Regions from separate parts of the Homo sapiens genome. Here region 2 is linked to region 1. A link means that fine-mapping ties the variant in region 1 to the plasma level of a protein whose gene starts in the linked region. Region 1 holds a variant in brackets. A gene starts in the other region. All regions are shown on their forward strands.

Evidence for each region. PIP is the posterior inclusion probability: the model's chance that the variant is causal. Protein levels are from antibody-based Olink assays in UK Biobank. Linkage for the fine-mapping came from a reference panel and not from the study's own genotypes, which makes the PIPs less certain.
Region 2: it holds the start of HS6ST2, and the variant in region 1 is fine-mapped to the plasma level of the HS6ST2 protein (UK Biobank, PIP 0.95).

What each region holds. Positions count from the first base shown.
Region 1 is chr10:97,338,933-97,354,452 of GRCh38, forward strand. LOC105378448 (a long non-coding RNA gene) reads left to right here. Exons shown (of 2, transcript NR_188201.1): 2 at 3,875-4,271. Among named protein-coding and RNA genes, the nearest start is that of FRAT2, 12 kb to the left of the region's middle. The variant TA/T (reference allele first, on the strand shown) is at 8,696.
Region 2 is chrX:132,956,502-132,971,464 of GRCh38, forward strand. HS6ST2 (heparan sulfate 6-O-sulfotransferase 2) reads right to left here and starts at 2,128. Exons shown (of 5, transcript NM_001394073.1): 1 at 1,674-2,128; 2 at 307-825. The coding sequence starts at 2,101. It overlaps LOC124905219 (a long non-coding RNA gene), which reads left to right and starts at 934. Exons shown (of 2, transcript XR_007068337.1): 1 at 934-2,375. RefSeq lists an enhancer at 1,507-2,007.

The sequences.
Region 1 (15,520 bases):
GCCATCGCATCCCCTGTGACTTGCACGTATACATCCAGATGGCCTAAAGTAACTGAAGATCCACAAAAGAAGTAAAAACAGCCTTAACTGATGACATTCCACCATTGTGATTTGTTCCTGCCCCACCCTAACTGATCAATGGATCAATGTACTTTGTAATCTCCCCCACCCTTAAGAAGGTTCTTTGTAATTCTCCCCACCCTTGAGAATGTACTTTGTGAGATCCACCCCTGCCCACCAGAGAACGACCCCCTTTGGCTGTAATTTTCCATTACCTTCCCAAATCCTATAAAACAGCCCCACCCTTATCTCCCTACGCTGACTCTCTTTTCGGACTCAGCCCGCCTGCACCCAGGTGAAATAAACAGCCATGTTGCTCACACAAAGCCTGTTTGGTGGTCTCTTCACACGGACGCACATGAAACCAACCTCAGGTGATCTGCCCACCTTGGCCTCCCAAAGTGCTGGGATTACAGGTGTGAGCCACCGTGCCAGCCTGATGTTCAAGTTTTTTGGTTTTTGTTTGTTTGTTTTTTGTTTTTTTGAGATGGAGTTTCGTTCTTGCTGCCCAGGCTGGAGTGCAAGGCGGCAATCTCTACCGTGCCTGGCCAATACAACAAAATTTTATTCAGCCATGAAAAGGAATGAACTATTGATACATGCTATAACATTTTGCTCAAAAACATGCTGAGTGAAGCCAGACCTAATATAGGGCGGGCGCGGTGGCTCATGCCTGTAATCCCAGCACTTTGGGAGGCTGAGGTGGGCGGATCATGAAGTCAAGAGATCCAGACCATCTTGGTCAACATGGTGAAACCCCATCTCTACTAAAAAAAATACAAAAATTAGCTGGGCATGGTGGCACATGCCTGTAGTCCCGGCTGCTCGGGAGGCTGAGGCAGGAGAATCCCTTGAACCCAGGAGGCAGAGGTTGCAGTGAGCCGGGATCGTGCCATTGCACTCCAGCCTGGGCAACAGAGCGAGACTCCATCTTAAAAAAAAGAAAAAAAACAAAAAACAAAAAACCCATCTCTACTAAAAATACAAAAAATTAGCCGGCCGTGGTGGCAAGCACCTGTAATCCCAGCTACTTGGGAGGCTGAGGCAGGAGAATGGCTTGAACCCGGGAGGCAGAGGTTGCAGTGAGCTGAGATCACGCCATTGCACTCCAGCCCAGGCAACAGTGCAAGACTCTGTCTCAAAAAAAAAAAAAAAAAAGCTCATATATTGTATGGTACCAATTACATGAAATATCGACAACAGGTAAATCTATAGAGTTAGAAGCAGATTGATAGTTGATTAGAGCTGCGGGGGTGATTGAGGTAGGGGGTGACTGCTAACAGGCAAGGGGTATTCCTTTAGGGTAATGGAAAAATTTTGGAACCTGTTAGAAGTGGTGGTTGCACAGCATTGCAGGTGTACTGAATGCCACTGAAATGGCCACCCTTTGAAATCTCTATTTTTTTTTTTTTCTGAGTCTTGCTCTGTTGCCTAGGACAGAGTGGAGTGGCATGATCTTGGCTCACTGCAACCTCCACCTCCTGGGTTCAAATGACTCTCCTGCCTCAGCCTCCAAAGTAGCTGGAACTACAGGCCTTGCCACCACGCCCAGCCTTGAAATCGCTAATTTTAAGCAGGGCACTGGGCTGCAAGCTTGTAGTCTCAGCTACTTAGGAGGCTGAGGAAGAAGCATGGCTTCAGCCCAGGAGTTCAAGACCAGCTTGAGCACAAAGAGAGACCACTTCCCCGCCCCACAGACTCTGAAAAAATAAATACATAAATAAAATAATAAAATGGCAAATTTTATGTTATGTGAATTTTGCCTCAATAAAAATAATTATATACTTTATGCAGTATTTGATCCACTTCTTTCTTCCTTTGTAGTTGGAACTGCAATCTAATCTATTTGCTGATGTAAAACAATCACATCTGGCCAAGCATGGTGGCTCATGCCTGTAATCCCAGAGCTTTGGGAGGCTAAGGTGGGAGGATCCCTTGAGCCCAGGAGTTCAAGACCAGCCTGGACAACATGGCAAAACCCCATCTCTACCAAAACAAAACAAAAAAACAATCAGCCAGGCATGGTGGGGTGTGCTTGTGGTCCCAGCTACTCGGGAGGCTGAGGCAGGAGAATTGCTTGAGCCCTAGAGGTTGAGGATCTATTGAGCTGTGATCATATCACTGTACTCAAGCCTGGGTGACAGAGTGAGAGACCCTGTCTCAAAAAAGAGAAAGAACAAACCTTCTTCATATTAGTGTGGGAGATAGCAACTCCACAATACCACTAGCACCACACAACCTGGAATAGCTATATAGATTGTTTTGAGAATTTTATTATTGCAATTTTTTTTTTAAGACAGGATCTCACTCTCTCCCCATCTGGCGTCCAGTGGCATGATCTTGGCTCACTGCAACCTCCGCTTCCCGAGCTCAAGTGATCCTCCCACCTCAGCTTCCTGAGAAGCTGGGACTACAGGTGCACACCACCACACCCAGCTAATTTGTAGATTTTCTATAGAGATGGGGTTTTGCCATGTTGTCCAGGCTGGTCTTGAACTTCCAGGCTCAAGCAATCCACCCATCTCAGCTCCCCAAAGTGCTAAGATTACAGGCATGAAGCACCACACCCAGCCTATTTATTTATTTTAGAGACAGGATCTCACTCTGCTGCCCAGGCTGAAGTGCAGTGGTGTAATCACGACTCACAGTGGCCTCAACCTCCTGGGCTCAAGCAATCCTTCCACCTCAGCCTCCCAAGTAGCTAGGACTACAAATGTGTGCCACCGTGCCTGGCTAATATTTTTTATTTTTTGTAGAAATGAAGTCTCACTGTGTTGACCAGGCTGGTCTCCAACTCCTAGGCTCCAGCCATACTCCCTTCTCAGCCTCCCAAAGTGCAATTCTCCTTCCTCAGCCACCGAAAGCCCTGGGATTAAAGGTGTGAGCCACTGCACCCGGCTCACACACATTTTGAGAATTTGAAAACAACTCTATTGTGTTAAATGCTGAAATTCTGAGGTCTGTTACAGCATCTAGCATAACCCTAATGCACAGGGATAAAGGTTATCAGGGAAAAGAGAGGTGGAGAGAGCGCAGCACATTTAAGTACCATGAAAAAGTTCATGAGTGCGGGTGGGCAAAGAGACCTGATTTGCATTTGAAGAGGAGCTCTACCCACAGAAGTGCCAGGCTTAGGGGACTGACAGAGGAGGCAGATCCCAAAGATGTGAACAGAGAAGGCAAACGCCAGTTTAGGACTGATGGAAAAATCGCAGGCTCTGATCAGACACAGCCCAATGCCTTCCTTCTTCTGCCACAGCCCAGTTGAGTTACTATTGGCCTCCATTCCAGACAGCTGCCACATTGTTTTCCAGCTCTCACAGGCCCCCTATTTCACAGAATCCCAGTGAGTGTCTCCTACACAGGGTGGCTTGCTTCATTGAGGCAATTCTGGGTGTCCCTCCCTGGGTAGTTTGGTTTCTTGGGGAAAAGAAAGGGCAGATGACTCCACCCATCTGCAGACCCCAACATGCAAGTACACTTTTTTTTTTTTTTTGGAGATGGAGTCATGCTCTGTCACCCAGGCTAGAGTGAAGTGGCATGATCTCAGCTCATTGCAACCCTGCCTCCCGGGCTCAAGCGATTCTCCTGCCTCAGCCTCCCAAGTAGATGTGATTACAGGCAGGCACCACAACTCCCAGATAATTTTTGTATTTTTAGTAGAGACAGGATTTCACCATGTTGGCCAGGCTGGCCTCCAACTCCTGACCTCAAGTGATCCACCGGCCTCGGCCTCCCAAAGTGCTGGGATTACAGGCATGAGTCACTGCACCCAGCCGCAAGTACACCTGATGCCTTCTCTTTACCATTTCAGATTCCTGCAGGTAGACACCAAGGATCTCCTCAGAGCCAGCGCTGATCTCATCCACAGAGGGATCACATGACCTCATCTGGGAAAATATAAACCCTACCCACCTGCCTGCCCATTTGGAAATGCAGACTGGAGGACGCTAAGTTCATTCTTACCTATGTACTAACAAGTACACAAGAAGATGCTCAATATCATTAGTCCTTGGGGAAATGCAAATTAGATTATAATGAGATTCCAGTGTACACCCACTAGAAGGCTATTAAAAAGGACAATACCAACTGTTGGCAACAATGTGGAGAAATGGAACCCCTCCTACGTTTCTGATGAGAATGTAAAATGGTGCAGATACTTTGGAAAACAGTTTGGCAATTTATTAAAAGATTAAATAAGCATAAACTTACTATATGACCCAGTAATTCCACTCTTAGGACTCTGCTCAAGGGAAATGAAAATATACATCCACACAAAGACTTACACGAGAATGTTCATAGCAGCATTAGATATAGTTCAAAACTGGGAAACAATCCAGAGGTCCAACTAGCAAATGGATTTAAAAATGTGGGGCTGGGGCTGGGCGCGATGGCTCACACCTGTAATCCCAGCACTTTGGGAGGCTGAGGCAAGTGGATCATGAGGTGAGGAGATCGAGACCATCCTGGCCAACATGGTGTAACCCCGTCTCTACTAAAAATACAAAAATTAGCTGGGCGTTGTGGCGTGTGCCTGTAATCCCAGCTACTCAGGAGGCTGAGGCAGGAGAATCGCTTGAACCAGGGAGTCGGAGGTTGTGGTGAGCCGAGATCACACCACTGCACTCCAGCCTGGTGACAGTGAGACTCTGTCTCAAAAAAAAAAAAAAAAAGTAAAGTAAAGAAAGGAAAAGAAAGAAAATGTGGGGCTAGGTGCAGTGGCTCATGCCTGTAATCCCAGCATTTTGGGAGGCTGAGGTGAGTGGATCTCCTGAGATCAGGAGTTCGAGACCAGCCTGGCCAACATGGCGAAACCCCATCTCCACTAAAAAAAAAAAAAAATTGCCGCATGTGGTGGCATGTGCCTGTAATCCCAGCTACTCAGGAAGCTGAGGCAGGAGGATAGCTTGAGGAGGTGGAGGTTGCAGTGAGCCGAGATTGTGACATTGCACCCCAGCCTGGGTGACAGAGCTAGATTCTGTCTCAGAAAAAAAAAAAAATTAAGACCAGGTGTGGTGGCTCACGCCTGTAATCCCATGAGTCTCCGTCTCAACAAACAAACAAACAAGTGTGTATCTGCAGACAATGGGATACTTTTCAGCAATTTTTTTTTTTGAGACAGAGTTTCACTCTGTGGCCCAGCTGGAGTGCAGTAGCGTGATCTTGGCTCACTGCAACCTTTGCCTTCTGGGTTCAAGCGATTCTCCTGCCTCAGCCTCCTGAGTAGCTGGGTCTACAGGCACCTGCCACCACGCCAGATAATTTTTGTATTTTTAGTAGAGATGGGGTTTCACCATGTTGGCCAGGCTGGTCTCAAACTCCTGACCTCAAGTGATCCACCTTCCTCGGCCTCCCAAAGTGCTGGGATTACCGGTGTGAGCTACTGCACCCGGCCTGGTTTGTCTTTTCTACCTCACCAATTAGTCCTCCTCTGTCTGCTCTTAATGGTGGAGAATCCCAAGCTTAGGCCTTGTGTTCTCTTCTCTGTCTACACTCATCCACTTGTCAATCTCCCAATATATTTGCTTGACACACACACACGCCTCCCTCATGTACTCGCCCTGCCTGGAGCTCTCCCCAGCCACTCTGGCGGCTCCATCTCCACTGGGATGCCTAACAGCCATCTCCACCTCAGCGTGTCTGCAACTGAACCCCTGACTTCCTTGCCCCTAAATGCTCCATCTGCAGTCTTCCCCATCTCAGTTAATGACCAGTCCATGAATCTAGTAGCTCGGGCTTGGAGTCATCCTTGATTCCTCCCTTTCCTCTTACACTCCACAGCCAATCTTTCAGCAAATCCCACGGTCACTACCTTCAAGATATATCCAGAATCCAACCACCTGCCAGCACCCCACTGCGAGCCTCCTGGCTCAAGCCCCCCTCATCTCTCCCTTGGATGATTGCACTACTAATCTTCTAACTGGTCTCCCTGCTTCTGCCTTTGCCCCTCTGCAGACTATTTTCCACACAGCAACCCAGTGACTTTAGAAAAACCCAAGTCAGATAATGTGACCCCATGTTCACAACCTTCCAGAGGCTTCTTTTTCTTTTTGAGAAGGAGTCTTGCTTTGTCGCCTAGGCTGGAGTGCAGTGCTGCGATCTCGGCTCACTGCAACCTCTGCCTTCTGAGTTCAAGCAGTTCTCCTGCCTCAGCCTCCCGAGTAGCTGGGAATACAGGCGCCCGCCACCAGGCCCTGCTAATTTTTGTATTTTAGTAGAGACAGGGTTTCACCATCTTGGCCAGGCTGGTCTTGAACTTCTGACCTCGTGATCCACCCACCTCAACCTCCCAAAGTGCTGGGATTATAGGCATGAGCCACTGCACCTAGCCGGTCAGAGGCTTCTTTTTCTTTCTTTTTTTTTTTTTTGAGATGGAGTCTCACTCTGTTGCCCAGGCTGGAGTGCAGTGGCATGATCTCAGCTCACTGCAACCTCTGCCTCCCGGGTTCAAACGATTCTCCTGCCTCAGCTTCCCGAGTAGCTGGGATTACAGGCGCTCGCCACCACACTCAGCTGATTTTTGTAATTTTAATAGAGACAGGGTTTCACCACGTTGGTCAGGCTGGTCTCGAACTCCTAACCTCAGGTGATCCACCTGCTTTGGCCTCCCAAAGTGCTGGGATTACAGACGTGAGCCACCGTGCCTGGCCTAAGAGGATTCTTTTTCTACTGGGAGGAAAAGGCAAAGTCCTTAGACCCCAGCATCTGGCCCCTGCCCTCATCCTAAGCCCATGTCCTACCACACCCCTCCCACTCACTCAGCTCCAGCTGCTTTTCCTTGAACACGCCAAGCACAGGCCTGCCTCAGGGCCTTTGCACTTGCTGCTTCCTCCATCCAAGGAGCTATCTAAAGGCTCTATTCCTCACCTCTTTCAAGTCTTAGTCACTTTCTCAGGTCACCCAATTTAAAGTTGAAAGCTTCCTGGCCAGAAGTGGTGGCTCACGCCTGTAATCCCAGCACTTTGGGAGGTCAAGGCAGGTGGATCACTTGAGGTGTGGAGTTTGAGACCAGCCTGACCAACATAGTGAAACCCCATCTCTACTAAAATACAAAATAGCTGGGTGTAGTGGTGGGCATCTGTAACCCCAGCTACTGGGGAGGCTGAGGCAGGAGAATCACTTGAACCTGGGAGGCAGAGGTTGCAGTGAGCTGAGATCGCGCCACTGCACTCCAGCTTGGGCAATAGCAAGACTCTGTCTCAAAGAAAAAAAAAATTGAAACCTTCCCTCTCTCTCATCCAGCACCCCCAGCCCCTTTACTGCTATGTCTCTTTAACACACATCACCATCTAATATCCTACAATTAAGGTATTGATTTTGTTTGATCCCACCATGAAAGCTTGGGATTTGCTTGTTTTGTTTGGTGCCTAGGACAGCGCCTGACACATAGGAGGCAACAATAAAAATGTGTTGATGATTGAATGAATGGTGTCCAGCCTTGGTGTTCCAGTAAATAAGGGGTAGTCTTCCCTCTGCAGAAGATGAGGATCCCTGCACCAACAGCACTGAATTCAGGTTTCAGTTTACATACCACTTACAGCCATTTGTAAATTTTATTTATTTATTTATTATTTATTTATTTATTTGAGACAGAGTCTCATTGTGTCGCCAGGCTAGAGTGCTGTGGCATGATCTTGGCTCACTGCAACCTCCAACTCCCTGGTTCAAGGGATTCTCCTGCCTCCGCCTTCCAAGTAGCTGGGATTATAGTCATGCGCCACCATGCCTGGCTAATTTTTGTATTTTTAGTAGAGATAGGATTTCACTATGTTGGCCAGGATGGTCTCGATCTCCTGACCTCGTGATCCGCCTGCCTCGGCCTCCCCAAAGTGCTGGGATTACAGGTGTGAGCACCATGCCCGGCCCACTTATTTATTTATTTATTTTTTTTGGGACAGAGTCTCACTCTGTTGCCAGGCTGGAGTGCAGTGGCACGATCTCGGCTCACTGCAACCTCCGCCTCCAGGTTCAAGCGATTCTCCTGCCTCAGCCTCCCAAGTAGCTGGGATCACAGGCGCCCACCAACACACCTGCCTAATTTCTGTATTTTTAGTAGAGACGGGTTTCACCATGTTGGCCAGGATGGTCTCGATCTCTTGACCTCGTGATCTGCCTGCCTCGGGCTCCAAAACTGCTGGGATTACAGGCGTGAGCCACCGCACCCGGCTTTTTTTTAATATTTAATTTTTTTGAGACAGTGTCTCACTCTGTTGCCTAAGCAGCTGGAGTGCAGTGGCAGGATCACAGCTCACTGCAGCCTCAACCTCCCTGGGCTCAGGTGATCCTCCCACCTCAGCCACCCCAGTGGCTGGGAATACAGGTGGGTGCTGTCATGCCCAGCTAATTTTTGTATGTTTTGTAAATAAGGGGTTTTGCCATATTTCCCAAGCTGGTCTCCAACTCCCAGCCTCAAGATATCGGCCTGCCTCGGCCTCCTAAAATGTTGGGATTACAGGTGCGAGCCACCCGCCCAGCCAACAGCCACTTCTTATCTCCCTGTCCAGCACTGCCCCCACCCCATCCTAATGCACCAGCCCCTCTTGTCTGGATCATAACAGCAGCTTCTCAGCAGGTTACTTCATTTCCTCTTGCCCTGTTCTAATCCATCATCCATACATACAACAGCCAGTGATCT[TA/T]AAAAAAAAAAAAAAATTGGATCAGGTCAGTGTCCTGTGTGCTCCCTCCCCTCTAATTTGAGTGAGGATAATTCCAGTCCCAGTGAGAACCACCTCCGCCACCAGCCTCTCAGCCCTGTCTGCCAGCATTCTCCTCCTTGCACCCCTGGTTGGGTAACCTTGGCCTTCTGTCAGTTCTTTGAAGAAGCCAAACTCTTCGCTCCAGGGTCTCTGCTACTGAACATTCTTTTTCCCCTTCTTGGCCTGTAGCAGCACAGCCCCAAAGTGAGGCACTTTTTGTTTTGTTTTGTTTTTTTGAGATGGAGTTTCGCTCTTGTCGCCCAGGCTGGAGTGTCATGGCACAATCTCGGCTCACTGCAACCTCTGCCTCCCAGGTTCAACCAATTCTCCTGCCTCAGCCTCCCAAGTAGCACATTACATGTGCCCGCCACCACACCCAGCTAATTTTTGTATTTTTAGTAGAGATGGGTTTTCACTATGTTGGCCAGGCTTGTCTTGAACTCCTGACCTCAGGTGATCTGCCTGCCTTGGCCTCCCAAAGTGCTGGGATTACAGGCGTGAGTCACCATTCCCAGCCAAAGTGAGGCACTTTTAACAGCAATGCTCCCAACCCCAACTGCACACACACATAAACACAGTCTAAGTAGAAACAGTAAGCCTGGTATGCAAACAAAGCTTCCACATGAGTCCAGCCCCAGCCCACCTTCCAAGCTGCAAGTGACTGCTGCCCTTGGTCCCGGGTTTCTGGAAATGTAGGAGCCTTGGTTGTTTGCCACCCTAAAGCCTACTCATCCTCCAGGTCTTAGCTAAATGCCACTCCAAGAGGCCCTCCTGCTATGGCTCCCTTCACTTGCCCAAACCAGGACCCAGCATGATATCCATGCCGAACCTTCATAGCACTATCCTTTTTTTTTTTTTTTTTTTTTTTTTTTTTTTTTTTTGAGACGGAGTCTCGCTGTCGCCCAGGCTGGAGTGCAGTGGCGCAATCTCGGCTCACTGCAGGCTCCGCCCCCTGGGGTTCACGCCATTCTCCTGCCTCAGCCTCCCGAGTAGCTGGGACTACAGGCGCCCGCCACCTCGCCCGGCTAATTTTTTGTATTTTTAGTAGAGACGGGGTTTCACCGTGTTAGCCAGGATGGTCTCGATCTCCTGACCTCGTGATCCGCCCGCCTCGGCCTCCCAAAGTGCTGGGATTACAGGCGTGAGCCACCGCGCCCGGCCAACACTATCCTAATCATGTGTTTTATTAAATTTTTTATTTATTTGTTCTGGCTCCTCATAAACTTAGTGAAGGCAAGGATCCTGCCTGCATTGCTTACTACTCTATCTCTCACCCCTCACCAAATGTCTTTTTGGAAGTCCTTTGCTCAGAATAAATGCCCAATGAGAGAGAGAGAGAGAGAGAGAGAGAGAGAGAGTGTGTGTGTGTGTGTGTGTGTGTGTGTGTAAGGGAGAGAGAGAGAATAAGAAATGTGCAAGAAGAGGCCGGGCGCGGTGGCTCATGCCTGTAATCCCAGCACTTTGGGAGGCCGAGGCGGGCGGATCACGAGGTCAGTAGATCGAGGCCATCCTGGCTAACACGGTGAAACCCCCTCTCTACTAAAAATACAAAAAATTAGCCGGGCGTGGTGGTAGGTGCCTGTAGTCCCAGCTACTCGGGAGGCTGAGGCAGGAGAACAGCGTGCACCCAGGAGGTGGAGCTTGCAGTGAGCCAAGATCGCGCCACTGCACTCCGGCATGGGTGACAGAGTGAGACTCTGTCTCAAAAAAAAAAAAAAAGAAATGTGCAAGAAGATCGCGGAAAGAGACTTGCAGGCCAGCTGCATCCCCCTCCTTGGAAGAGACACGAAGGAATGCCCAGCCCAGCCCAGCCCTTCCCTTCATGTCAAGTTCACGCTGTTCAAGCTCACCCACCTCTCACTGAGTATAAACAGACCTGTTTTGTAATTGGTCTTTATCCCAGAGTAGCAGAGCTTTGGGAGCAAAGAGCCTGCAGGGTAATGAATGGGAGGGAGAACAGACGCTGGTGTCCAACTTCACATGGCATTTGGAAATTCACAGCCAAGCCTCTTTGCAACACTGTGCCCTCCCCGGGGGCTAATTTCAGCAGGCTGCAGCAGCATAGGCTTTAACTCCAGAGACCTGGGTGCTACCTTCTGCTACCTGCATAACTCTGCCCAAACCATGCATCCTTTCTGCCTTTCAGTTCTCAGCTGCGAAGTGGGAATCATGATAAAGATAACCATAATCACAATGCAAACAGGGCAACTGTTGCAAGGATCAAAAGAGATGGTGGGTGTGAATGTGTTTGGTAAGCTGGAGAGCTCCGTACAAGCTCCAATTGTAACTGCCACCGTACCTGTGCAGGAGATTCAAATCTGGCAGGTGTGACTGTGCATGTAACAGACGCTAGACCCCTTTGTGAAATCCTGAGGAACCCCTACAGGACCCACGTGATAGTCCTCATGTGAGCAGGGAGGAATTTTCTCAGAATACTAGATGTCAGCTTTGCTAGTTGATAATTATGAGTGTTTGCTTTGGAGCACCCCATCTTCTTCGAGGAGTTGAACTAGCTGCTGGAATGATGAATGAAGGCGTTTTTAGATAAGTATTATCACACAATGATCCAATCGATACACATAAAATCTGCTCAGGGCAACACTGTGCCTTGTCATTTTTATGAGCATATTTACAACTGAGGGTTGGTCTCAGGTTATCTACTGTGTATGTAATTCAGGCTCAGTGGCCTCAAGTCCAAGAGCTATGGCATAGCAACTGTTCTGGTTAAAAACAAGACTTCTGGCCGGTCATGGTGGCTCACACCTGTAATCCCAGTACTTTGGGAGGCCGAGGCGGGCGGATCACTTAAGGTCAGGAGTTCAAGACCAGCTTGGCCAACATGGTGAAACCCCATCTCTACTAAAAGTACAGAAATTAGTCAGGCGTGGCAGCATGCACCTGTAATTCCGGCTACTTGGGAGGCTGAGGTAGGAGAATTGCTTGAACCCAGAGGTTGTAGTGAGCTGAGATCATGCCTCTGCACTCCAGCCTGGGTGACAGATTGAGACTCTGTCTCAAAAAAGCAAACAAACAAAAAACCAAGACTTCCAAGAGCTTGCAGAACCTTCACTGGTGGAGGACCATGAGGGCTATACAGGTTATTCCTGGCACCAGTTGCAAATCCATCTGCCTGTCATCAGTGCCTCACATCCTCTTTGAAATTCTGACTTAAAATCATCAGCTCTGTAATGGGTGATGGGTGACATCCCTGGAATTTGGAAATCAGGCTGCCCTCTGGAAGTTAAACCCTTCAAGTCTACACGAGGGACAGGATTAGTTATCTGAACAAGGCCCCAGAAGGAACAGGATGTCTCTCTGGTGAAAGCCAGAACTGGCCTTGGAAATTCAATCCAGGCATGCCTGCCTGTGAAGGAAGCCTTACTAAATCTCAGAACAGGCTGGGCCTGGTGGCTCACGCCTCTAATCCCAGCGCTTTGGGAGGCTGAGGCGTGGGTGGATCACCTGAGGTCAGGAGTTCGAGACCAGCCTGGCCAACATGCTGAAACCCCGTCTCTACTAAAAATACAAAAAATTAGCCGGGAGTGGTGGTAGGCATCTGTAAATCCCAGCTACTTGGGAGGCTGAGACAGGAGAATCGCTTGAACCTGGGAGGCGGAGGTTGCAGCGAGCCAAGATCGTGCCACTGCCCTCCAGCCTGGGCAACAAGAGCGAAACTCTGCCTCAAAAAAAAAAAAAAAAATCTCAGAACAGCTTCTGAACAGCAGGTAAATGGCTGCAAAGGCCCTACAAGATACCAGAGAGGAAGGATCTGTTCCATTCTGCAGCCAACCAAAATAGAGGGGCAGGGCCCCAACAGGCTGCTAGGAGAATGGGCCCCTGTAGGCAGATATATCCCCAGAGACAAAACTGTCCCACCCCAATGACAATATTATTCACATATCACTTGCATGATTCCATTTGCCCTGTTTTATGCCCCCAGTACAGAAAACACACTGGTTTCAGCTTCCTATGCAAGGGAGCATGTGCTGAGCAGTCACCTTGAGTATCTTGGGCAGTTATAGTTCTCATTATAAATTAATATATTATAATTTCGACTAGGTCTCATGTGAATCTGTATCTTCTTCTCTGAACCTGATCAATCCTGATTTTATCCTTATTTATTTATTTAGAGTTCCAGGCTGGAGTGCAGTGACTATAACAGGCTGGACCAAAGTGCATTGCAGCCTCAACCTCCTGGTCTCAAGTGATCCTCCCACCTCAGCCTTCCAAGTAGCTGGGTCTAGAGGCACATGCCACTGCACCCAGCATCAATCCCAATTTTAGACTTGTAAAGCTGATCTCCAGTCCTCAGCCCTGGAATGAGTATGCAGCAGCAAGCCACTACACCATCTACCTACGTTCTTAGTCAGTATTTACTGATGATTGACCACGGCCTCAAAACCCAAATCCAGGCATTTCCATGACGAATCATTGAGATTTGGAATGGGAGGAGGAAATGTGCCACTGCATCCCTGGCCTTGGATAACTCAGCTGGCCTCTAACAGCTTGGTGTTTCTAATGGCAGTAGCTACGTCAAGCATAATTTCAGGAAATGGCAAACCAGCTTACATTGTCCCAAATCAGGGTTATTTTCTGGAGTACAGTCATCTATCTATTCACAATAATGTATATCGAAAATAGAACATAGAGTAGTCATCACGGCATTTTCTAAATACTCCTTTGCACACGGTCTGGCATCTAGTGATGGCATTAAATTCCTGCATACAGCAAAGAACAACATACTTATGGACTCAAAGATGCTTTGTAAACTGAACTATGTCCGCTGGGCAGATGTTTAAAGCTGAGCTACTGAAAATGATGTTTATAGCCGGGTGCAGTGGCTCATGCCTATAATCCTAGCACTTGGGGAGGCCGAGGTGGGCGGATCACCTGAGGTTGGGAGTTCAAGACCAGACTGACCAACATGGAGAAACCCCATCTCTACTAAAAATACAAAAATTAGCTGGGCGTCGTGGTGCATACCTATAATCCCAGCTACTCGGGAGGCTGAGGCAGGAGAATCACTTGAACCTGGGAGGCAGAGATTGCAGTGAGCCAAGATCGCGCCATTGCACTCCAGCCTGGGCAACAAGAGTGATACTCCGTCTCAAAAAAGAAAAGAAAAGGAAATGATCTTTATGAAGCATTTACATTAGTATACGGTAAGAACTTTAGTCAAGTGCAAATTTAGAACACAAATTGTCCAGGCATGGTGGCTCATGCCTGTAATCCTAACACTTTAGGAGGCTGAAGCAGGAGGATTGTTTGTGTCCAGGGAATTTGAGGCTGCAGTGAGCTGTAACTGTGCCACTGCACTCCAGCCTGGATGACAGAGCAAGATCTTGTCTCAAAACACACACACACATATATATATATAAAGTGTAAACTTGCATTTTAAAACATTTTTTTTTTTGAGATGTAGTCCTGCTCTGTTGCCCAGGCTGGAGTGCAGTGCCGTGATCTCGGCTCACTGCGATCTCTGCCTCTCAAATTCAAGCAATTCTCTTGCCTCAGGCTCCCAAGTAGCTGGGATTACAGGCACGCACCACCATGCCCAGCTAATTTTTTTGTATTTTTAGTAGAGACGGGGTTTCACCATGTTGGCCAGGCTGGTCTCAAACTCCTGACCTCAGATGATCCACCTGCTTTGGCCTCCGAAAGTGCTGGGATTACAGGCATGAGCCACCGTACCTGGCCCCATTTTTCCTTTTTTTGAAATAGGGTCTTACTCTGTTGCCCAGGCTGGAGTATAGTGACATGATATCGGCTCACTGCAACCTCTGCTTCCCAGGCTCAAGCTCTTCTCCCACCTCAGCCTCCGGAGGACCTGGGACTACAGGTGTACTCCATCACGCTTGGCTAATTTTTTGTAGAGACAAGGACTCACTATATTGCCCAGGCCAGTCTCAAACTCCTGGGCATAAACGATACTCTCGCCTCAGCCTCCCAAAGTGTTGGGATTACAGGTGTGAGCCATTGTGCCTGGCCTTACATTTTTTCCTTAATTAAAAAAAAAATAGCCCTACGTATATTAAGAAAAAAAAGAATGAAATGCACTAGTAATAACAGAATTTGGTGGAAGGATTTTAGCCCCTACTTTTACTTTTGTTTTTTCCAAATGTTCTGGGAATCTTTATCACTTTTGTAGTGAAATATATACGATTTTAATTTTTAAAATTACCCTTTGAGGAAACATAAGCAACCAAGAAAGAAAAAATGGGGAAAGGACTCTGAGGACTGAAAACAGGCTACCTGAACTTCATAAGCAATTTTGTTACATGTTGCAAACAGTACAGAAAAAACACCCTTCTTGGGACTGATCATGCTGTAAGTAGGACTAGCTCTAAAGATGGCCACTGGCAGGAATGAACTGCCAGGACAGTCCCCACCAAGCCTTCTGCCACAATCACGAGAAGGGAAATAGTGAAGGGGCAAGGTCAGTTTAACCTGACTCACCCATGGCCAGAAGTGTCACAATGTGGACATGACTAGACCGCCTTTGCAAATCCCCAAAGCTTGACCACTCCCTTGGCCAACTGCAGGGTTGCGGTTTTCGTAGTCAAGCAGGGTAGGACCTGTTTTCCATTTCTGAGAATGAGTGGAGGATGGACCCCAGAAAAGCAAGCCTCAGATTGACATTCCCAAAAGCACAAATTGAAAATCTGGAGAGTGAGAGCTCTCAACTTTCCTATTCACCCTAAAATTGGATGAATCTTTTGTTGATGAACACTCCTAAGACTCTCTTTCGCCACACTGTTGAAACA
Region 2 (14,963 bases), not on the chromosome of region 1:
GTACGATGCCCCGTCCCAGCGGCCCCGTTCCGGCCGCTCGGCCGCCTCCCCCGCACGCTCTGCCAACCATCACGCAGGCCACCCTGCGGACAGACAGACGGTCAGTCCGGGGCCGGAGCGGAAAGCCTTTCTGTGGCCGCCACAGCGCGGCGAACGTGCGCTACTGGGCGCCCAGCACCTGCCCAGCCGGGGTGCAAACGCCCGGGCGTCAGGGTGCGCGCTAGGTCCCCGGCTTGGGCCAGCCGCGCCTCCCAGCCCTCCGCCCGCCTAGGCCCGGGTCCCGCTCGACTACCGGCGCGCACTCACCTGGACGGTCTCAGCCTGGCGTCGCGCTTGCCGTCCACCACGGAGGGCACACAGCTGGTGAGCTCGGTCCAGTCGGCGTGCAACCCGCAGCTCCAGCCCGTGGAGAACCTGGAGAAGAGCCAGGTTTCCCGCTTACCCGGCCGGTGGCAAGTGCATTTCTTCTGACCCACGCGGCACTCGCACGGCTGCTCCAGCTGGATGTTACGCACCAAGTGGCGGCCGAAAGTGGTGCCCCCGGTCTTCTGGATGTGCAGGAACACGATCAGGTCATCGCCCTTGATGTCGAAGTCTACCTTGCGCAGGAGGTCGCCGCGGGTGAAATTGTAGCGGGGCACGAACCTGGCGGAGCTCTCATCCTCCGAGCGGTACGGGTCCGGCACCGGGGAGCTGAACGCCTGCAGGCGGAGGAGCTGGCATTCTGTGCCGGGGCACACGTATTGGAGGACGATCACGGCAAATAGGAAGAGCATCACCAAAGCTAGCAGCAGCTTGTTGGATTTCTCATCCATGTTCCCGACGCTGGGGGAAACCCAAGCTCGTTACGTCAATCCCGCAGCTCAGCCCGCGCTCGTCGTGCCCCCGCACCGCCCCCTTCCCCTGGAGCCGCTGCTGCGCCCCTCTCCCCCTCCCCTCCGCACCGAGTACTCCACGGCGGCGGCGGCTGCGGCGGCGGCTCCCTTCCCCGCTTCCTTCCTTCCCGGCAGGCTCAGCGCTGTGGCTTCTGCGGCACACACACACCCCCACCCCGACTCCTTCCCGCGGGCCGTTCGCCCCCTCCCCCCGCCAGAGCTCTCCGGAGCTCCCCGGAGCCCCTCCACGGGGTTTAGCCCCAGTGGGACCCCTCCGGGCCCAGTCGCCCCACTCCTCAACTCACGCCCCCAGTCCGGGCCCCCGCGTGTCTCGCTCCACTCTCGGTGGCTCCCGCTCCCATCCCCATCCCGCTTCGTCCGCCGGACTCTCCGGGCTCTTCTGCCCCTATCCTCTTTGGAGCGCACACCTCTGTCCGGGTTTCTCCCCGCATGCCCCGAAGCCCTCCTTTTGCCGGCGCCCGCGCCCGCTTGCCCACCCGGTAGGCGGCCTCGAGGGAGCTCGGAGCCGGGGGCTCAGAGTTACCCTGGGGGAATGAGCCGGCCGGCAGCCCGACTTGCTATCGGAGACGCTGCGCTGCCGGTGCCCGCGGAACAGTAGCGACGGAGCCGCGGCGTGGGCAAATGCGCGCCGCACCCCTCCGGAGACCCTAGCCGGGCCACCAATGGCCAGCTGGAACTTTACGCCCTTCTCTACCCCCCGCGGCTGCCTTCCCTCCCCGTACAGCACCTTCGCGCCCTGGCCTGGGAGCGCGAACCCCGCTTTCACCTAGAACGTACCTGGCCATGGGGCCGAAAATCTTGGAGAAGATCGCACCGAGCACGTGCTTCAGCGAGTGGCCCAGGGCGGCCAGGCCCCGAGTGAGCAGGGCCCGGCAGAGGGAGCCCAGGTCCCAGCGTCGCCTGAGGACGTGCATCCGCCTGCGGCGGCCCCGGGACAGCAGCGCGAAAAGCGGGGCGCACGCGGCTCCCGCCAGGGAAGAAGACGCCTTTCGGGGCTTGTCCAGGAGCGGCCGGGTGTGGAATCCGTGAGACACACCCCTAGGAGGGCCCGCGCGAACTGAGGCGGCGACCGACCCGGGCCGGCTCGCTGCCAATTCGGCCTCTACTCTGGAATGCCGGCGGGGACAGGTGGTGCGGACGGGCGCTCCTCGCTCCGGTTGCCGCGGCGGCTCGAACTCCCGGACTGCACACGCAGGCAGTGCCATTCCCCCCTTCAGGCAACTCAGGGTACTAAGGATCACGAGCGAGCTTGAATTTATATAATAATGCCTCACGCCTAAGAGCTCGAGCCACTTCACAAGCAGAGAACCTGGGTTTTCTCTTTTCTTGGAGTACGGAGGTCACTCCGCTTAGCGCATCACTCCACTTTGGCTCGTAATTTCAACCTCTCCTAAAATAGCAAAGGCGCAAATTGGAGCTTTTCCGTCTCTCTTTGCCAATTTCCATTCTCCAGCGGAAGCGGGGGCATTTTCTGAAAAGGTAAGTCAGCATGATAAAAAGACAGCAGGACCAAAAAGCATTACAGAATGAGAATCTGACCTTTTTTAGAGCACAGACTGTCTTCTTGCTGAATCCTGTGTACCAAACCCTGTGCCTGCAGGAGGGCTTGACTCATAAAAGGTTTGTTGAATGAATGGATACATAACTAAAAACTCCATCAGAGTGAGACCGTCTAATCCAAGGTAATGTGACACATGAGGAAACTGAGGCCCAGAGAGGGGTAGGGATGTGCCCAAGGTCACACAGCAGAGCCCCAGGGTTTGAACCCAAGAAACCCAGCACCATCCACCTATTTCCTGATACTAACACCACCTTCTCTAATAAATAGGCACAGATCTTCCTCAAGCTCCAGTGTCCGAAAGGCTCTTTTCTGCTGCTGGACCAGGAATGCAGGGTTTAACAGGGAAAGAATGGATGTTCCTTCAGGAAAAGGACCCTGGGAACTCAGGAGTCAGTCTGTCCCCATCTGATTGATCAAAGGGGCTTGCTGTACATCAGGACACTGGTGTTTCCGTGACTGAGTGTGCAACTCCCTCCAGTCCCACTGCTACAGAAGGGGCACCGGTTGGCAGCAGTGTTTCTGAGCAGTGCTGTTGGCACTGGGGCCACTGAGTGGGAGAATGCAGACCACGAGCTGAGTCCTGGGGTGGGGGCATGTCCCTCCTGGAGACAGGCTCTCCCAGTATCTCCCTTGCTGAGCTCTGCTCCATCCGTTTCCTGTTCTATCTATGCCATGAAGCGGCAAGCCTAAGAATAGTCCAGAAGTCCTGGGAAATCTGTCCCTGGGCAGCACTGGGATAATCACTTGCCCCTCCTGAGCCTCAGTTTTCTTGTCTGTAAGATAGGACCAATTATGTCCCCTGTTTTGACCAACTGAGTCACCGTGGGGATGAAATGTAGAAACCTTTAGGCCACTCCAAATGTGAGGCTGTGTTTACCTGTTGCTCTAAGCTCAATGTGCCAACTGCGTCACAGGCCAAATAAGGAACAGGCCGTTCTCAGGCAATTCTGTGGCTGTGCACCCTGTCTTTACCACCCCCTAGAATTCCCAGCCCTGGCTAGACTTCTACGTGCCCCCAAACCTACTGGGGACCGTGAGGGACCCTTTGTCCAGCTGCAGACATAAGGGATAGTGGATTTTTTGGGAATCCTGAATTTCTAGCACTCCAGGCATCTCCTGTCCTGAGGTTCCAGGAACACTCTGAAAACCCAATGAACTTGTGCGAAGAAGCCAGATGCAGTAACTTACAAGGTTGACCTCTCAGCTTCCCCAAGAGCTCCCCTGGTGCCCAGGCTGGTAGTCCTAGGCCTGCTCCCCCTGAGGGCAGCTTAGGGTGTGAGCCAGGGTAGTGGGAAGCTATGGGGGTGGCCCCGGAGCTCTGCTTGCCAGCTGCCCCTGCCTTCTGCTTGGCCACTCACTGCAGTCAACCTCTTTAGCCTACCCAATAGGTGGCTCTCCTCATGGTGTCGCATAAAGATTCCCTGCCATTACACCACCTTTGTATGTAATGGCATTCATTGGGTCCCTAGGAAAATATTTCTGAAACAGGTGGGTCACAAATTCAAGCCCTCAGCAGCTAAACTACGGAGTTTCTACTGTAAGAGGGATTAGTGGCATTGGAACACAAGAAAGTGCCTTGGGTGGAGGGAAGGGGGAGGTGGTAAACAGTACGGGGGGAAAAGTCAGGTTTTACTCATTTGAGTTGTGAAAAGGAAGGTGTCCACACACCTGCACACACACTCACAGTCCAACCTTCAGAGAAAGGGCCAGTGAGGTTGGTAGTTGCAGAGCAAGAGGGACAAGGTGGGGCTGTAAAGTTCAGTTTCTGAGATATAATATGTCACTAGGATTTTTGCATTTAGAAGCCCTTCCTCCACCCCCTCATGCTGTGAGGAACAAAGAAATGAATCTCTCATACAGGAATTCATATATCAGGGCTCCTGGAAGTATAAGAAAACAGTCTTTGTGGGGAGCAGGGAGTCCCACAAACCTCAGAAGATCCCTCCAGGATTGAAGAGGCTTTTTGCTGAGAAGCAGGGAATTTTTCCTACGTGTGTCCCAAGAGCCATGTTCTCCCGAGGCCAAGGCTGGGCCTTGGCTGCATGTTGAAGAGGCTTCTTGTAATCTCGGCTGGTCTCTGCTCCCAGGAGCCAGTTCCTCTCAGGCAGTGAATGACAAAGGCTCAAATGCTCTAGATTTTGGCCTTTTGGGGAAAGACTGGGGGTAGGAGGCAAAAAAAAAAAAAAGGGAAGAGAACTGGCCGAACTGTCAAGTGTTCGGTTTTCCATCTCCTTAATTCTAACACCAACTGGAGTTGCTGTGTATGCATATATTTGGGATTCAGTACCTGGAAGGCGAGGAGAACTCTGTCATCTGAGCAGGGCTTCTGGTTGTCTCTATGGTGTGGTATGATTTTCATTATTTTCCCAGAACCGTCCTTCCATGGTTTCCAATGAAAAGGCTGATGATTCTGGGAGCATAAAGGTCAGCCTGGCTTGCATGCGAAGCAGCACAAGGCCAGACATGCATTTGGTTCCTGTAATCTGAGACAACAGTGGGAGGTAGTTACAAGAGCACTGGCCTGGGAGTCCAGAGACCTGGGCTCATGTCTTGACTCTGACACTAATGAGACTATATATATATATATATGACCCTGAGGAAGCCACTTGCTCACTTTTGGGCTCAACTTCCTTATCTGTGAGATGGCAAGGTTGACTTTGTGATTCAAGAGGCACTTCCCTGATCTGACATTCCTTGTCACATGTTTACCTTTACTGTCTTCCTCAAAGGCTGAAGGACTGCCAAAGACTCAGGGCCTTAGCCCGGGGGGAATGACTTAGACCTGGTTCTACCTGCATTCTGTGGCATTTGCATCACTGGATCCCACCAGGCCAGCAGCAGCTGCAGTTGTTCTGGGCCCATATTACAAGGGTGACAGCAGGGTACCCTGTTCAAATTAGAACAGAAATAGTGGAAACTTCATATTAAAGAAAGCATGACATTCTTTCCAGAAAGCATAGATTATGCCTTCCCCTCATCCTGAGCATTCTCTTCAACCCTGGCTTTCTAGCTGTCTCTCATTTTGTGAAAACGTTCATACTCTCAATAATAGGCAATTCTGTCACAAAGATGGAAGGCATGCAAACTACTGAGTTGACTGGTTTCTGTTCTTACGTGTCTCTCCAAACGGAATGAATAGCAGTACTTAATGAAAACACTGTCCGGCAATTCAGGCTTTAATATTATAAACAGGCTGGGTGTGTTATATGCATCACTCTCAATAGTCATTTAGTTTCCCCCACAGAACACTGAGTTTTATTTTTCTAGCCTAACAAAACGTGGGGCTCAAGGAGTTAAAAAAAAGGAGGTGCCAGGGTGCTGTATATGCTAAATGAATATGTGCTGAGAAGGTAGGATAAGCACTGGAATGGGGCTCATAGTAGACCCAACCCTGTGAACAAGCAGCCCAATGACCGGCCCTCTACTGATGAAGGGTTCCCACCATTTCACTAGCAGTGAAATTCCCTTTTTTTTTTTGAGATGGAGTCTCACTCTGTCACCCTGGCTGGAGTGCAGTGGTATGTTCTCAGCTCACTGCAGCCTCCACCTCCTGGGTTCAAGCGATTCTCATGCCTCAACCTCCAAGTAGCTGGGATTACAGACATGCACCACCATGCCTGGCTACTTTTTGTATTTTTAGTAGAGATGGGGTTTGGCCATGTTGGCCAGGCTGGTCTCGAACTTGTGACCGCAGGTGATCCACCCACCTCGGCCTCCCAAAGTGCTGGAATTACAGGCATGGGCCACTGTGCCCAGCCAAAATTCCCACTTTTCACTGACAACGAATGGAAGAGTCAGCTCATGCAGGGCTTTTAAAGCTACAATAAGCCAAGGCCTAGCAACCATAGGCAGCAGGCCAGACTGTTCCTGGAATAGTCATCTCACTTCTTTGGGCCTCAGTTTCCACTCTTAGAAAATATCCTGGGCTCGGTTTGGTGGCTCACACTTGTAGTTCCAACACTTTGGGAGGCCAAGGCAGGTGGATCGCTGGAGCACAGAAGTTTGAGACCAGCCTGGGCAACATAGTGAAACCCCGTGTCTACAAAAAAAAAAAAAAAAAAAAAAAATACAAAAAATTAGCTGGGCGTCGTGGCATGTACCTGTGGTTCCAAGCTACTCGGGAGGCTGAGGTTGGAGGATCCATTGAGCCTGAGAGATTGAGGGTGCAGTGAGCCATGACCATACTACTGCACTCCAGCCTGGGTGACAGAGTGAGACCCTGTCTCAAAAAAAGAGAAAAAAAAAAAAAAGAAGAAGAAGAAAGTAGCCTGACCAGGTACCTCCAAAAAGCTGGTTTAGGGGTATAGTAAAGAGGAATCCAATCTCAAATGAGTGCTTTTAAAGAGAAGAGAGCATAGGTTTGGAGAGCACACTGCCCTGTGGGGTTTAATTAGGGCTCTGTGAGTTCATCAGAACCTCAATTTTCTCATCCATGAAAATGAGGTTAATGATGGCTACCTCAGTGGGCTGTCATGCGAGTTAACTAAAATAATCTACTGAGAACACTTAGTCTAGTTCTTGAAAAAGCAGACCTTCAGAAAATGCTTGCTTTTTTCCGCCTCTTTTGACTCAATGTCTTTGATTTGATATCTTTGTTATATCTTCACAGTAGCAACACACATATACTTAATGACAGGCAACTGGCTATGGGCCTAATTTTGTCCTAGGCTGGCTTTGCCACATCCTATTTTTTTATCTGCAGTCTTTTCTCACCCTCCCTCCATGTCTCTCTAGTGCTCTCCTGGCTCATGTCCCATGGAGGAGGAAAGCCTCTGATCCACTGTGTCACATTGAGGGATGGGACAAATACACGTGTCCCCTTCCAAGATATATCAACAAGAAAAGAGGAGATGGCATTGCTTAACCCTAATGAATGGTCCTTCCCATGGGATACTAGGAAACACAGAAAATAGGGCACTGGAGGAGATGCTTGGAGAGCTGAGATAGAGAGCTATAGGTAAGTAAAGAGGAGAGCTTACGGGGCGAGCCCTACTTTAAACTCTTGACACTAATTTTAAGCTCCATTCACTTCAAAAGTTAATGGTTGATCTGGCCGGAGGGGTTTCCATTTGAGCAACTAGTCAAACCACAGCAGTTGGGATTAAAAAACAAGGTCAAGTTTGCATTCATCCTGCTTGAGCCTTAGCTGAACAAGCCCCATCAACTGAGCCCTGGGCTGGCAGCACCAGTTCACAGTGGCAGAGTAGAAAAAGCACCAAGTGGGATGCCAAGAAAACAATGTTTGAGTCCCAGTTCTGCCTCTGGCTCACTGTGTGACCCTGGGTGAGTCACTTGATGTCTCTGGGATTTAGTTGCCAACTTTCGTAAAATGAGGGGCTGCCTTAGATGACCGGGAAAGCCCCTCCCAGCAGGAGCCTTATGTGATCTGAGCTATGCTAGCTAATGAGAAGGCTGGGGAGGGACACCACTCTCTTCTGGCTGTTGTGTCAGCAAAGATACACTACCAAATATGACCCTCCAGTTAGTCACTGAGTCACAAAAGCGGAAGAAGGACTTAAATGAGGAGCAAAGTTTCTCAGATCATAGGGATAAGACAGAAAGTTGAAAATAAGGCTTCTGGGCCTCTACTGACTTGGATGGTAAAGTCAAGGCTGAAAGATTGGGAAAAAGTCATGTCAAGAACTTACCTCCAAGGCCAGGCGCAGCGGCTCATGCCTGTAATTCCAGCAATTTGGGAGGCCGAGGTGGATGGATCACCTGAGGTCAGGAGTTCGAGAACAGCCTGGTCAACATGGTGAAACTTTACTAAAATACATCTCTGCTAAAAATACAAAAATTAGCTGGGTGTGGTCGTGTGTGCCTATAATCCCAGCTACTTGGGAGACTGAGGCAGGATAATCGCCTGGACCTGGGAGGCAGAGGCTGCAGTCAGCCGAGAACATGCCACTGCACTCCAGCCTGGGCAACAGAGCAAGACTTCATCTCAAAATAAAAATAAAGAAGTGACCTCCAGCTAACACAACAGCCTAAGGTAGGTTTTAATAACGGTAATGATAAAAACAAAAATGGCCTTGCCTGACCCACAGTTTCCCATTTATGTTTATACTCTGGGATCTCAGCAAGAGAGGAACACACCCATTGCATGACTGGTCTCTGTGGGAGTCCTAGTTCTGAATACTAAAATACAAGAGTTGAAAATTATATCTTAGGTCAACCTGGAGAATTTGAAGGAAGCAGGCTTCAAGGCCAAAGTTGCTCCCAGGAAAAGGATTTATTTGTCATTCAAATGGGCTGGAAAGGAAATGCCTTATAAGCATAATCCAGGAAAAGAGAAATTACTTTAGAGAAGCCATACTTGTCACAGACTAAATGAAAATTAATTTTTAATAAGAAAGAGCCAGACCAGAGGCTCCTAAAGCCCTTAACTGGGCTTTATAGTAAAACCTGAGAAAGGACTTGCTTCTTTAATACGTATTTTCAAGATCCACATTTCACAAAATGGCATAAAAATGCAGAAAGCTACAGCATTAGAGCAGATGAGGGAAATGAACTTGGTAATAAGCACTTTGAATATTTATCTTCTGTACTGAAGAAAGTTGCCTTAATGGTTATCATCATGTGGGAGATTTAGCTGAAGCAGAAGATGATATTCAAATCCCCAATGAGAAGAGACAAAATGCGGTTGGTAGCGCTCAACAAGGGGTTAGAAATGCAACAGGCATGGGGAGAGGGGTCTACCTGTTGTCGAGGGTGCCAGTTTCAAAGATCTGCACAGTGATCAGGATGGCTGGCTATAGTGGTGTCTCCTGTAGGTTGACCTCAGGATGGTTAGCAAATAGTGCCAATAGTAGCTCACATACTGAACACTGAACATCTGCTGTATGTCAGATACTGTACTAAACGCTTTGCATGCACTATCTCAATTAGCATTGCCAGCAACCCAATGAGATAGTTACTTCTGTTGTACTTACTTTACAAATGAGTAAACTGGAGTTCCATATTACAGCCACACAACTAGGAATTATAGAGGTGGAACTTGAACCCAGATCTATCTAAGTCACGAGCCAATAATAACTCTAATGTCTCCCTGATCATCATCCAGCTCCAGGGTGTCTGAGTTTGATTGGAGAATATGAGACATCCTGTTCCAAAATACAATGTCAAGAGACTTAGATAATCCTCATCCCAGGCAGGAGAGCTGGACAGAGAGGGATTGTGTGTGTGCGTGTGTGAGCACACATGGACACATGCTGTCATGCACATGCTCTGAGAGCAGTGAAGAAGATAGAGAGCCCAAAGCCTGAATTTTAGTAAAGAGGGAAGCAGAGATGAAGACACTGCTGACTAGACAACTCAATACACACACAACCTTGGGATGTCACCCGCATGATCTGACACTGTTATCTTTGGGAAATGTCACAAGCAACTTTGTCCACTCTACTAAACAATAGCCTTCTGAAAGTCTAGGACCTTGGCTTCTTCATTTTTAAAAATTCTTCATAATGCTCAATAACAATCACATTTAGTCTAGGGCTTCACAGTTTACCCAATATTTTCACAGACACTGATTGGATCTTTACAATAATTCTGCAAGGCTGCTGTTAGTGTCCTCACTTTATTTATGAGGAAATGGAGTCCCTCAGGGCTGAAGAAACATGGCTAGGGTCACATAACGTGTGGAATTGCCACTTCTGACCTCTCCCTTAGCTCCCCCAAGCACACATACCAATGTCAGACAATGCCCACAGCACCTCACAACGGATCTGGGACAGAAGAGGTGCTCAAGAAATGTTAGTTTTTCCCCTTACTTGCCAATTTATGACTTAAAATGTTTTCTTTCCACTAACTACATTTTACCAGGTACCCAATATCTTCAACAGAGACTAGTCCACATTCTCAGAGAACTTACCATCGATATAAGGAAATATAATACACCTAATATGCAAGAGCCTGAGGATAATGACTGACTAATCTGTGGCACTAGCTCTAATGCAGTGACACTCAGCGGATGGTTCACAGATGTCTGGAATGGCCAGAAAAGCCTCCCTACTGAACATTGGGAGGGCCTGGAGGAGCTAATCAATCTGCCCACCCACCCATTCTTTTTTGTCTTGGTCCCAGAAAGAGGAACTTTTGCTGACAGAAACTGTTTTGACCACCTTTTCTTGTTGTACTCAGGGCATCAGTCCCTTCCTTGTTCACAGGGTTGTATACAAAGTGTCCTAGCCCTCCCCAGCTACAAATTCCACCCTCAATCTGCAGTGACAAGAGCGTGACATGGCGGAGTCTTTCATCAAGAGAGCAGTATGTAGCCTCACAAACACAGTACGGGCTGTGTCAACATGCACAACTCAGTTGCAGAGCAAATAGTTGATTTTTTTAGACCAAGTCAATAAGCTGCTTTTCACAGGGAGAAGAGGGACCAGGATAGGCACAGTTTAAACAAGAAGACACTCTGCATTTTACCCTAAATGTTTCCATTGTTCTATATCTTGCCAGTGGTTGGTAGCAAGTCAAAGCAAAAACTGACATTTAGTGTTCCAGAGTCTTCTGGAAGAGAGCCAGCTAATGAATTACCAGATGAACAGCTTTTGGCTCACTTATCAAGGACAAATCTTATGCCAGCTGAGATGCTAAGATGCTGTTGCAATAGCAAACTAACAACCACAATAACAACAACAATAATTTACCAGGATGATTGCAAGAATGCAGGACAGACAATTTTCTTTGTTGGCTGTAATCTGGAAATACGTTTAGTTTTGATTTTTCATCCACATTAGATGCTCATAACATGACATTCTAAACAGAGACATTTTAGGCTGGATATCAACAGAGAATTATTTTTATTCATCATTAGTTTCATCAAAAACTTAACAGCTGATATAGATTTCATCAAATGATGAGGGAGATTAGTATGATGTAAAAAAATTCACAACAAGGCACAAGGCTCACACCTGTAACCCCAGCACTTTAAGAGGCAGAGGCAGGAGGATCAGATTGCTTGATTCCAGGTGTTCAAGACCCTGTTTCTATAAATAAATAAATAAATAAATAGTGGGGCATGGTGGGGCACGCCTGTGGTCCCAGCTAATTCAGAAGCTGAAGTGGGAGGATCACCTGAGCCTGGGAGGTTGAGCCTGCAGTGAGCCATGATCACGCCACTGCACTGCAGCCTGGGTGACAGAGTGAGACCCTTCTAAAAAAATCACTATAAAGATGTATTTTATTCTTTTGCTCTGCCTTGTAACACTACCGTTCATCTAATACTCAGACAAACTGAGGGTAGAAGATTCAGGCTTAATTGTCCCTCCTCTCCACCAATACCCCCTGTACTAGTCTGAAATGACAAGGTAGGAGCTCCTCTTAGCAATATTTACAGACCATTCTTCACATAAAAGAATATAAGAACTCTCAAAAAGCTAAATAAACAGAGTACTCTAAACAAGCCCTCTTCCTGTCCTTTTCTCAGAAGTCTGCTGCAAAGGCTCTTGGTCAGTGCCACAGGCTGTTCTTTTATCTCAGTAACCGGAGTGCCTTTGCAAAGCTGGCCTGGAGGTCAGGTCTCAGGCTCACTCCCCGGTATTCAGTGAATTCTTAGTCAAGTCCAAGCTTGAGTCAGCTGCCTCCATTGTAACTCTTTTGCAATTCGATGGATAGCTTGGTCCTTATGTCTTGAGGATTGGAATCTCCTGGGCAGGGATTGGATTTCACTTTCCATGTCTACAGTGTTTGCACTAAGGTTATTAATATATTCTCTACAGGAGGGATCATATTGAGAGCAAGCTGAAATTCACATAACAAAGCCTGTGGCTTGAAACTACGCTGGGCCAAGCCCCCAGGGGGATACTGGGTAACTCTGAGCAGCCAGTCACCCTTGGAGAACATTGAGAAGCATCTGAGTCTACCCTTTCTGGGACACAGCATCTTTCTATATTAGACCCACTCTCCCAGACTTCCCACCATACCTGGAGGTGCCCTGCAACGCCAATGAGGGAAAATGTAACCTGAGGAACACTCATTTCCACCGTGGTGTGAGGGACTCAGAGGATTCCCTTTCCCAAAGTTCCATTTAGAATGAAATGAATGAATAATTTATACCAGGGTAAGAGTCAATAAGACCATTAAAGGAGCAGGCAACTGTAATACAAAGAGCACACCCTCTAGGATCAGACCAGGATTTGAAACTCAGTTCTGCTCTTTACTAACTGTGTGGCCTTAGGCAAGCAGTTAGCCTACCAGTGCCTCAGTTTCCTCCTCTGTCTCTGTACAATAGGTATGATACTAATCAACAACCTTGTAAGGTATGCATGTAAAGCTAGAGGATAATATACATAAAAGGCCTTTTACAGGCCCTTACAGAGAATGGGTATCCAACAAATGGCAGTTACTGTTATTAAACAAAGCAGGAGAGATGTCTGGGAACTTCTTAATGTCTTTCAAATCACAGCCCTAGGTGAATGTTTATATCCAATCTAGACAAGAATTACCCTGTTCAAATACATCATTGGATCTATACAGATGTTATTATTTTTCATTGTTTTGTTTTGTTTTTTGAGACAGGGTCTCGCTCTGTTGCCCAGGCTGGAGTGCAGTGGCACAATCATGGCTCGCTGCAGCCTCGACCTCCCTGGGCTCAAGCAATTCTCCCATCCCAGCCTCCCGAGTAGCTGAGACTGCAGGTGCATGCCACCACGCCTGGCCAATGTTTTGTATTTTTCATAGAGGCAGGGTTTTGACATGTTGTCCAGGCTGGTGTTGAGCTCCTGGGCTCAAGCAATCCTCCCACCTCAGCCTCCTGGGTTGCTGGGACTACAGGTGCATGCCTCTATGCCTGGCTAATTTTTGTATATTTTGTAGAAACAGAGTTTCACCGTGTTGCCCAAGCTGTTCTAGAACTTCTGGGCTCAAGCAATCCTCCCAGCTTGGCCTCCCAAAGTGCTGGGATTACAGATGTGAACCGCCATGCCCAGCTTATACATACGTTTTAATACTTTTCTGCCTTCATGTTTTTAATAACCCAAGTAAGGCTTGACTGAAACTCTTTGTAAATGTTCAAATATCATAGAAGGTGCAAAAATTCCTCTTGACCCCCATACAATTCCATTCCCTTCCCCTGAGGTAGCTGCTGTTTTCAGTTTGTTTTGTATGTTGGAGGGCCTTTATTGTAACCAAGTACACATATGAATACACATATTAAAATAAAGAATGTTGTTTTTGTGGGTTTTTTTTGAAAAGGAAAATGTATGTTTTGGATGTATGCTTTTGATATTTTATTGAACTATAATATACACTTGGAAAAGTGAACATAAGTGTACAATTGATGAAACATACATGAACTGAACATACCTATGTAATCAGCCCTCATACCAAGAAATGCTGCCATCACCTCAAAAGCCTCTCTTGTGCCCCGTTCCAGTCAACAAATCCCAACCAGTGGCCACTATTTCTGATTTATATCAGCATAGATTTGTTTGGCCTGCTTTTGTACTTTATATAAATCAAATCACAGAGTGTATTAATTTTATATTGCTATGTAACAAATTGCCACAGATACCACAGCTTAAAACAACACAGATCTATTCTCAGAGTTTCTGTAGGTCAAAAATCCAGGCACGGTGTGGGTGGATTCCCTTCTTAGGGGCTTATGGGGTTCAAATCAAGGTATCAGCCAGGGCTGTGATCTCATCTGGGGCCTGGGGTCCTCTTCCAAGCTCACTGGTTGTTGGCAGAGTTCATTTCCTTGCAGTTAAAAAACGGAGGTCTCTATTTTCTTGTTGGGTGTCAACCAGGGGTCACACTCAACAACTAGAGGTCATCTACATTCCTTGTCACAAGCCCTCCTCCACTTTCAAGCCAGCAACAGAGAATTTCTCTCATATCAGTCTCCCTCAAGCTTCAACTCTCCGACTTCTGATTCTGCAAGCAGTCCAGGAATATACTTTGCTTTTAAAGGAACTCATGTGGTTAAATCAGGCCCACCTAGATAATCTCCCTATTTTAAGGTAACTGATTTGGGACTTTAATTACATGTGCAAAATTCCTTTATGGTGGTACCTAGATTAGTGTTTGATTGGATAACTGGGAGACGGTCTGTGTACACCAGGGTCATGAAATCTTGGAGGACCACTTAGAAATCTGCCTACCACATACAGTATTTACTGTCTCAGGCTTTCTTCACTCAAAATTATGTTTATGAGATTCATCCATATCATAAGGGGTTATAGTTAATCCATTCTCATTGCTGTGAAGTATTCCATTGTGTGAATACACCACATTTTATTCATCCAAAATTTCTTCATATTGATGGGCATTGTCCTAATTTTAAGTGCTGGGCTGTTATGAATAGTGATCCCACAAACAGGACATTTGGTGAACATGTGTACATATAGATTGAAGAAGAAACACACTTTTTTTCTGTTATAAGACCCTAAGAATTTGGAGTTCTTTGTTGCCACAATATAATCCAGCCTATTTGACTGATTCAGAAAGCTGGGAATAGAATTAGTGCTATTACTAAAGGCAATAGATACTGCCATATTGCCATA